Linked DNA regions of Homo sapiens. The protein of the gene in region 2 interacts with the protein of the main gene of each other region in a biochemical or structural test. Each region holds a gene or a part of one and is shown on either strand. Other genes may lie near its edges.

Region 1 (4,107 bases), on a different chromosome or scaffold from region 2:
AATGTCAACTGAATATTAGAATACATTTTGGGCTCACCTGCGACATTTGGAAGTACAAAAGAACTTCACCGAAGAAGCGTTGTTCTAATGGAAAAATGAGGGCAAAGAAATTAAATCTCCTTTAAGAAAACCACTTACTTAAAAAAATATGGCTTACATTTTTTAAGCGTTTTATCTCTGCTTTCTCCTCTTGTTCCTTCCTTCGTTTCTTTTCCTGAAGAATTTCATCTAAAGTTTTCACTTTCCAAGAGTCCTTTTCATCACCCATTTGAGTTAAAACACTGCAAAAAGAAAAATAATTCAGCCTACATCAGGACACAGCAAGCTATGGTGCTGAACACTTGAACCTAGTCACTTTTGAGGGATTCAGAATAAATCCTCATTAAGAATAAGAAGTTGTGCCCGGCGCAGTGGCTCAAGACGGTAACCCTAGCACTTTGGGAGGCCGAGGCGAGCAGATCGCTGGAGTTCCGGAGTTCAACACCAGCCCGGGCAACATGGCAAAACCTCGTCTCTACAAAAAATACAAAAGTTAGCCCAGTGTGGTGGCGCGTGCCTGTATTCCTAGCTACAGGAAGGAGGCTGCTAGAGGCAGGAGGATCACTTGAATCAGAGAGGTCAAGGCTGCAATGAGCCAAGACTGCGCCACTGCACTCCAGCCTAGATAACAAAGTAAGACTTGGTTAAAAAAAAAAAAAAAAAAAGGTAAGCTCTAGGCTGAGGCGGGTGGATCACAAGGTCGGGAGGTCAAGACCAGCCTGGCCAACACGGCGAAAACCCTGTCTCCACTAAAAATACAAAACTTAGCTGGGCGTGGTGGCGGGTGCCTGTAATCCCAGCTACTCGGGAGGCCGAGGCAGCAGAATCGCTTGAATCCGAAAGGCGGAGGTTCCGGTGAGCCGAGGTCGCGTCACTGCACTCCAGCAAGACCCCGTCTCAAAAAAAAAAAAAAAAAAAAAAAAAAAAAAAAAAACAAGAATGATAAGTTGTAAGCCAGGCAAGGTGGCGAGCGCCTGTAGTCCCATATACTCTGCAAGCTGAGATGGGAGACCGATTGAGCCCAGGAGTTCCAGGCTGAAGTGCGCTTGTGAACAGCCACTGCGCTGCAGCATGGGCGACAAAAAAGAGTGATGGGTTCTGAAAAATGACCGCTTGAAATCAAGTCTCGTTTCTGTCATTCTTGTATGGTCTTGGGTAACGTAATTCACCTCAGTTCAGTCTTCCGTACAACCAGAATAACAACACCTACGTGATAGTATCGATCGCGGATTAAAGATCATCCGTTTAAAGGCTCTTAACTCAGGACCTGCCACTCATCAAACACTGCTTTTACTGTCAGAATCTGCTAGAAAGACCGCTTGGACTACGTGAAGCCACTAGCACACTGGACAGCTGCACCTTGAGACCGGGGAGATGCTCCGAGATGTGCTCGCGAACAAGGCCACCTGACCCGGGCACTGGGCTATTTCCTCGGGTTCAGTCCCGCACACTTGAGGTTCAGCCTGGCAGACGTTGGCTCCAGACAGCGTTTGGACCCGCCGCCTCCACCACCCAAAGTTCCGTGCGGGATGAGACTGTCCGCGGAAGCGAGGGTGTCGCTCGCCCCCGGGCCCGGGTCCGCCCCGCTCCGAGGCCTGCTCGGAAGAAAGACCTCGGTGCGCAGTTCTCGTCGCGCTCCCACACCTGGTCCGCCCAGTCGGAACTCACCCCTACGGGGCCGCGGCCGGTCCCTGAGCCTGAGAAGAAACAGCAACCGGCGCTCGCCAGAAGTATCCTCACTTCCTGTGTTGACGCCTAATGATGATATAATAGCCGACCTCTGGCCCAGAACTCAAGACGACAGGGGCTCGCTCTGTGCGGCACTTCCTGTGTCTGCGCGGGATGATGACGCATAAAACAGCGCTTGCTCAGGTCCAGGACTCCAAAAGAAACTGCGCCGTGAGCTGCACTTCCGACTTCGGCGCGGGCCGGGGCGCCGAGCAGAGCGACGCCGACTTTTGGAGCAGTTTGCGCCTGCGCGGAACGCGTGGCCGGCTTCCGGAATCCTACCGGGACTTTTCCGGTAGCGAAGCCCGCGCCTGTGCCAAGGCTTGCGAGCAGAATGCCTTCGCGATGGACGCCCGCATTCCACCCCCTTGACCGCTGGGACCCCTAGTGGCGGGTGGGTGGAGCGCGCTCCATTTACCTGCTGGTTACCTCGTGAGGCGCCTCAGGTCTGTGTGTCTTGTAAAGGCCGATCTCGGAATTTAACTCTGAACCTTACTCAGAAACAAAGCAGGGAGAGCTCTTACGATGTGATTTTATTTTATTTATTCATGTATTTACTTTTGAGTCGGAGCCTTGCTCTGCCGCCCAGGTTGGAGTGCAGTGGCGTGGTCTTGGCTCACTGCAGCCTCCTCCCGGGTTCAAGGAATTTTCCTGCCTCAGCCTCCCGAGTAGCTGGAACCACAGGCCCGCGCCACCACGCCCGGCTAATTTTTATATTTTTGGTAGAGACGAGGTTTCGCCATATTGGCCAGGCTGGTCTCGAACTCCTGACCTCAAGTGATCCGCCTGCTTCGTCCTCCTAAAGTGCTGGGATTACAGGCGTGAGCCACCGCGCCGGGCCTTTTACAATGTGATTTTGAAGCTGACACTGGCAGTGGGTCCTCAAAGTGCAGACTCACTGGGTATGGTGCTTCCCCCAACTCCCAGGGCCCCACTCCAAACCCATGGATTCAGAGCATTGCAGGAGAAGAGGATAAAACGAGCAATTAATTCCCTTTCCATATGTCAGGTTTTCCTCTTGCCTTGAAAAGTCACAGAAAAATGCTTTAGACATCTGAATCTCAGGAAACAAACAATGGAAGATAAACATCCGCATTTACTGGGCCTGAAATGGGAAAATGAAAGATGTGGCAAGAAACTGACAAGGGCCCAAGAAGGGCGATGGGTATCGGAATTCTTTTCATCCCGGAATGAAATGCTGCTTGCTTTGTGTACCCAAGCTCTTTTTTTATTTTTATTTTTTTGAGACGGAGTCTCGCTCTGTTGCCCAGGCTGGAGTGCAGTGGCGCGATCTCGGGTCACTGGAAGCTCCGCCACCCGGATTCACGCCATTCTCCCGCCTCCACTCCATTCGCCCGCATTAGGCTCCTGAGTACCTGTGACTACAGGCGCCTGCCACCATGCCCGGCTAATTTTTTTTTTATTTTCGGTAGAGACGGGGTTTTACCGTGTTAGCCAGGATGGTCTCAATCTCCTGACCTCGTGATCAGCCTGCCTCTGCCTCCCAAAGTGCTGGGATTACAGGCGTGAGCCACCGCGCCTGGCCTCCCCCAAGCTCTTAATGTTGCTTCCTGAGTTCTTGGTAACTGGGGAAATCTCCCTATTTTTTTATTTTTATTTTTTTTTGAGACGGAGTCTTGCTCTGTCGCCCAGGCTGGAGTGCAGTGGCGCAATCTCGGCTCACTGCAAGCCCCACCTCCCGGGTTCAACGCCATTATCCTGCGAGCCTCAGCCTGCCGAGTAGCTGGGACTACAGGCACCCGCCACCGCGCCTGGCTAATTTTTTGTATTTTTTTTAGTAGAGACGGGGTTTCACTGTGTTCGCCAGGATGGTCTCGATCTCCTTACCTTGTGATTCGCCCGCCTTGGCCTCCCAGAGTGCTGGGATTACAGGCGTGAGCCACTGCGCCTAGCTATTTTTATTTTTTCTGATAGGGAGACTCGCTCTGGCCCAGGCTGGAGGGCAGTGGCGGGATCTCCGCTCATTGCAAGCTCCGCCTCCTGGGTTCACGCCATTCTCCCGCCTCCACTCCATTCTCCCATCTTAGGCTCCAGAGTAGCTGGGCCACCATGCCCGGCTAATTTTTTGTATTTTTAGTTGAGACCGGGTTTCACTGTGTTAGCCAGGATGGTCTTGATCTCGTGACCTCGTGATCTGCCTGCCTTGGCCTCCCAAAGTGCTGGGATTACAGGCGTGAGCCACAGCACCCTGCCCTTTTTTTTGAGAAATAAGTCTCACTGTGTCACCCAGGCTGGAGTAGAGTGACACAATTTTGGGTAACTGCAGCTTCCACCTCCCAGGTTCAAGTGATTCTCCTGCCTCAGCCTCCCGAGTAGCTG
Region 2 (3,600 bases):
GCCAGCCCGCCCAGAGCCCAAGACCCCAGCTTTAGTCCCCATTGAGAAGAGCACTGAGGGAGTGACAGAGATGGCCACTCTGGCCCTGCTGCTCAGCCCCCAGCCGGCCTCACTGCAGGAGGAAGAGGTCTGATGGGGAACAGACCTCCTCTGGCTTTCCCATGTGGCCTACTGAGCTGTCTGTCAGCCCCTCCCTCCATCCATCCAAGTCCCTGGGTCCCCTTAAATGGGCTGGAGTCAGGGGCTGTGGAGGTGAGGCCAGGTCTTGGCCAGGAGCCATGCAGAGTGGGCAGGGGCCACATGGGCCTGCCCTGGTCAGCACCTTGGAGAAAAGCTGGGCTACCCAGGCCTCAGGAAGTCCCAGCCAAAGCCATGACCAGGCCCAGCCGCAGTAGCATGTCTGGCTTCTCCAAACACCCTGACCCCTGCCCTGCCCCATCCCCTTGGGGCCCCAGCCTCTCTCTTGCCCTGCTGTTCCTCCCACCCCTTCTCTGCTCCTCCAACCCTTCCACAGGGAGGACCTTGCTGCAACCTCACCCTTCAAACTGCTCTTCAAACTAGCTGGACCCAAGAGAAGTGCCAGACCCCTTCCTTACGGCCCTCCATTCACTGCCCAGAGCACCACTTCTGCCCGCTGGACAGACCACCCCGCTGCCCAGGAAGGGGGCCCAGGCTGCCACCTCGGGCCAGCAGCTCCTGCCCTCTCTCAAGCACCCCATTGTGGCCATCTCCAAGCACCTGCTTCCCCAGGGTCTCCAAGGGCAGAAGAAGAGAGCAGGGAGGTGACTGAGTGAGAGAGATCTTGCTGTCTTGGACTCAGCATGAGTAGACGAGGTGGGTTTCTTCTAGATCTCCGGGCTTTCCCCACCTCCTCTGGGCACAAAACTGTCCAGGCCAACTGTCCCCCTAACAACTTCTTCAGGAGCCCTGATCTGTGTGAGTTTCACCTTGGGGAGCCAGCTAGTGGGCCCAGGAGCTGGGGTCTGTTGGGGGAAGTACAGGGGAGTGGGTGAGGCTTTGTGGGGCGGGAGGCAGGTGGAAGCTGGGGGCGGGGCCACGTAGCAGGAAGACGGGGCACTGGAAGCCAAAGTGGAGCGCCAGGGGAACCCAGTGGTTTTTCTCTTCCCACAGTTCCCACGGGCAGCAGGAACACATTGCATCAGTGAAGCCTCCTCTGTGCCCTGCTGCATGGGCAGCCTGGGTGTCCACACACACCCTCACTGGCACTACTTCCAGCGCTTTCTGGGACAGGAGGAAGGTCAAACTGAATAAACTGCTTTGCCGGGCCCTCCCAGCTGGGGCAGCCAGCATTATTCCCACTTGACGGACAAGGGCGCTGTGACCTGCTACGGGGCACCTGTCCATGCGTGAGTGAGCAGGGACTCGAACTCAAGACTCGGCTCCACCCTCCTTTCTGCTGGTGCTGGCAGACCCGGCATCTTCTAGCTCCTAAGGTTGCCCCTGTTGACCATCCCCTTTGCCTCTGCTCAGGCCACCTGCCAACCCAGCCCCACAGCAGTTGCCTTAGTGGGGTGTGGGTAGCACAGGTGCCCGCAGCCTGGAGGTACAGAGGCCCACCGCAGCCCCAAGTGGACCATCGTGGCTGAGTTTACTCCAAAAGGGGATGTGGACTGGAAAGAACGAAGACCTCCACTTCAGGAGGTGCAGGTGACACCCTGCCCTGTTCCCTCCATAGGAGAGACCCTGGGTGAGTCCCTGGTCCCTCCAGCCCTCAGTCTCCTGCTCTGTAGGCCAGGTCATCTCTGAGGACTTTGTTAGCCCTGGCACTGCCTGGATTTTACGATCCATGACCCTCATCTTGCCATCAGCCTGGCTTTGGGGACTTAAAGAAGGATGGTGGGGACGCAGAGGTGGACACCTGGGGCTCCCTTGTAAGCAAAGGCATACTCCATTTACAGCTGACACTTTTGGCAGGATGAGGGGTGTGGCTGTCCCTGGAGTTGATGTCTGGAGGCTCTGAAAGACTCAGCCCACCCTTCTGAAGAAGCAGAGCCAGCTTCAGGCTGTCCTGCACCTCACCAGCTGCCCATCAGGCCTGGCTCCCACCCCAGCAGCAGTGCCTCCCCGCCTCCTCCAGCCAGCAGGGACCCCAGCCCAGACAAACCTGGGGCTTGCAGTGAGTCATGCTGACGGGGCGGGGACAGAACCCAGTTTCCCACCATAGCAACTACAATTCCGCTCAACCTTCAGGGCTTTCCAGAAATTGCCATTCACGTCTTCCTTCAGCCCTGGTTGAGCCCATGTGTATATAAATACATTTCACTTCTCAGTGCCCCCGTCAGGCCTCTTAGCCACACCAAGGCTGCCATACCCCCACCACCTGCACATCCCCGCTTTGCCATGATGCAGCCCGGGTCACATGGCTGCCCCTCTCTGGCACAGTCTCGTCCTCACCCCCAAATCGCCGGTACACTCCTTGAAGGGCCGGCCACAGTACCTTCCCTCTTCCCTACCCTCCTCCAGCCCCGCATACGCCGTACCTCCCAGCTTGCCACAGGACAGGGGTCGTGAGGTTTCCTGGGTCTCTTGCTCCCCACAGCCCTGCCCAGCAGGGTCGTTGAGGGCATGAGAACACACGGATGTCACCGGAGCTCTGCTGCTCCTGCCTGAGGCCCCTTGGCCGATCCTCTTGGCCTCAGCCTCTTCAGCAGTGAAACAGGGACTCATAAAGACAGCTGTGTGTCTGGATTTTGAAGTCACCAGGCAGGACAGCGATGTGAGAAGGCTTCACTGTCTCCCGAGAGGTGTGTGTCCACAGTGGTGACTGCTGTCTCCATCTGCCGTGTTTCTGCGGCCCCTCCAGACCCAGCACAGGCCAGGGAAGGCAGAGGCCCTCCACACACCTGGTTGTTGGTCTGTAAAATCTTGATGGGCTGAAGGGAAAAAACATTCCTGCGCCCTGATCCTCAGGCCCTGGAGCACACCTCCAGGCTTGGAGAGGGGTGTTAGGACAAAGTGAAGGACTCCAACATCACAGATGAGAAAAGTCCAGAAAGAACTGTCCTGACAGGCTAAGAACAGAAATTGCTTCAAACAAGGTTGAGATGGGTGGGAGTGGGTTATTAAGGGGTTATCAGGACCGGTTCCCACCTGTGAAGTGTCAGCAGAGACACATCCCCCTTTTGTCCTGGCACAGAGGGTAGGGTGGGGCAGGAGGAGCTAGGTCCCAGCAGCCCTCAAAGCAACTTGCTACCCCAGGAGCAGAGAGGCCTGGGCCTTGCCCCGCAACCAGTCTCAGGCGCTGGAGCCCCGGGCTGGGCAGTCCCTCCAGCCACGTCTCCCCTGTGCCAGAGCTAGAGGGAGAAGGAGGGGGGTCTTTATCCTGGTGGTGCGCCGTCATAATCCTGGGGAGGTCCCGGTCCCATCCGACCCCCAGCAGAGTCACACTAAGGTCCCTGGCTGGGGAGGAAGGATGAGCCTCTCCCTCCCCAAGTCTGGAGGCCCCTTTCTACCCACCCCCAACCCCGGCTGCTGAGAGGTGGGAGAGCAGAATCTGGCAGGGGGCACCTCCCAGGCTGAAAACATGCAAACTAGCCAGGAGAAGGAGCTTGGCATTAAATGTCAGGAAGAGCCCAGGGC

What was found.
Region 1: the proteins of SPDEF (region 2) and CDK11A form a complex in vitro, tested with the Homo sapiens proteins (one study listed by BioGRID).

What each region holds. Positions count from the first base shown.
Region 1 is NC_000001.11:1,722,551-1,726,657, forward strand, and holds the start of CDK11A (cyclin-dependent kinase 11A), read right to left. Parts: upstream 1,808-4,107; 5' UTR 1,708-1,807; intron 282-1,707; 5' UTR 269-281; coding exon 158-268; intron 1-157. UniProt on the Homo sapiens protein: Appears to play multiple roles in cell cycle progression, cytokinesis and apoptosis. The p110 isoforms have been suggested to be involved in pre-mRNA splicing, potentially by phosphorylating the splicing protein SFRS7.
Region 2 is NC_000006.12:34,549,730-34,553,329, forward strand, and holds part of SPDEF (SAM pointed domain-containing Ets transcription factor), read right to left. Parts: exon of another isoform or gene 2,689-3,600; coding exon of another isoform or gene 2,502-2,688; intron 1-2,501. UniProt on the Homo sapiens protein: May function as an androgen-independent transactivator of the prostate-specific antigen (PSA) promoter. Binds to 5'-GGAT-3' DNA sequences. May play a role in the regulation of the prostate gland and/or prostate cancer development.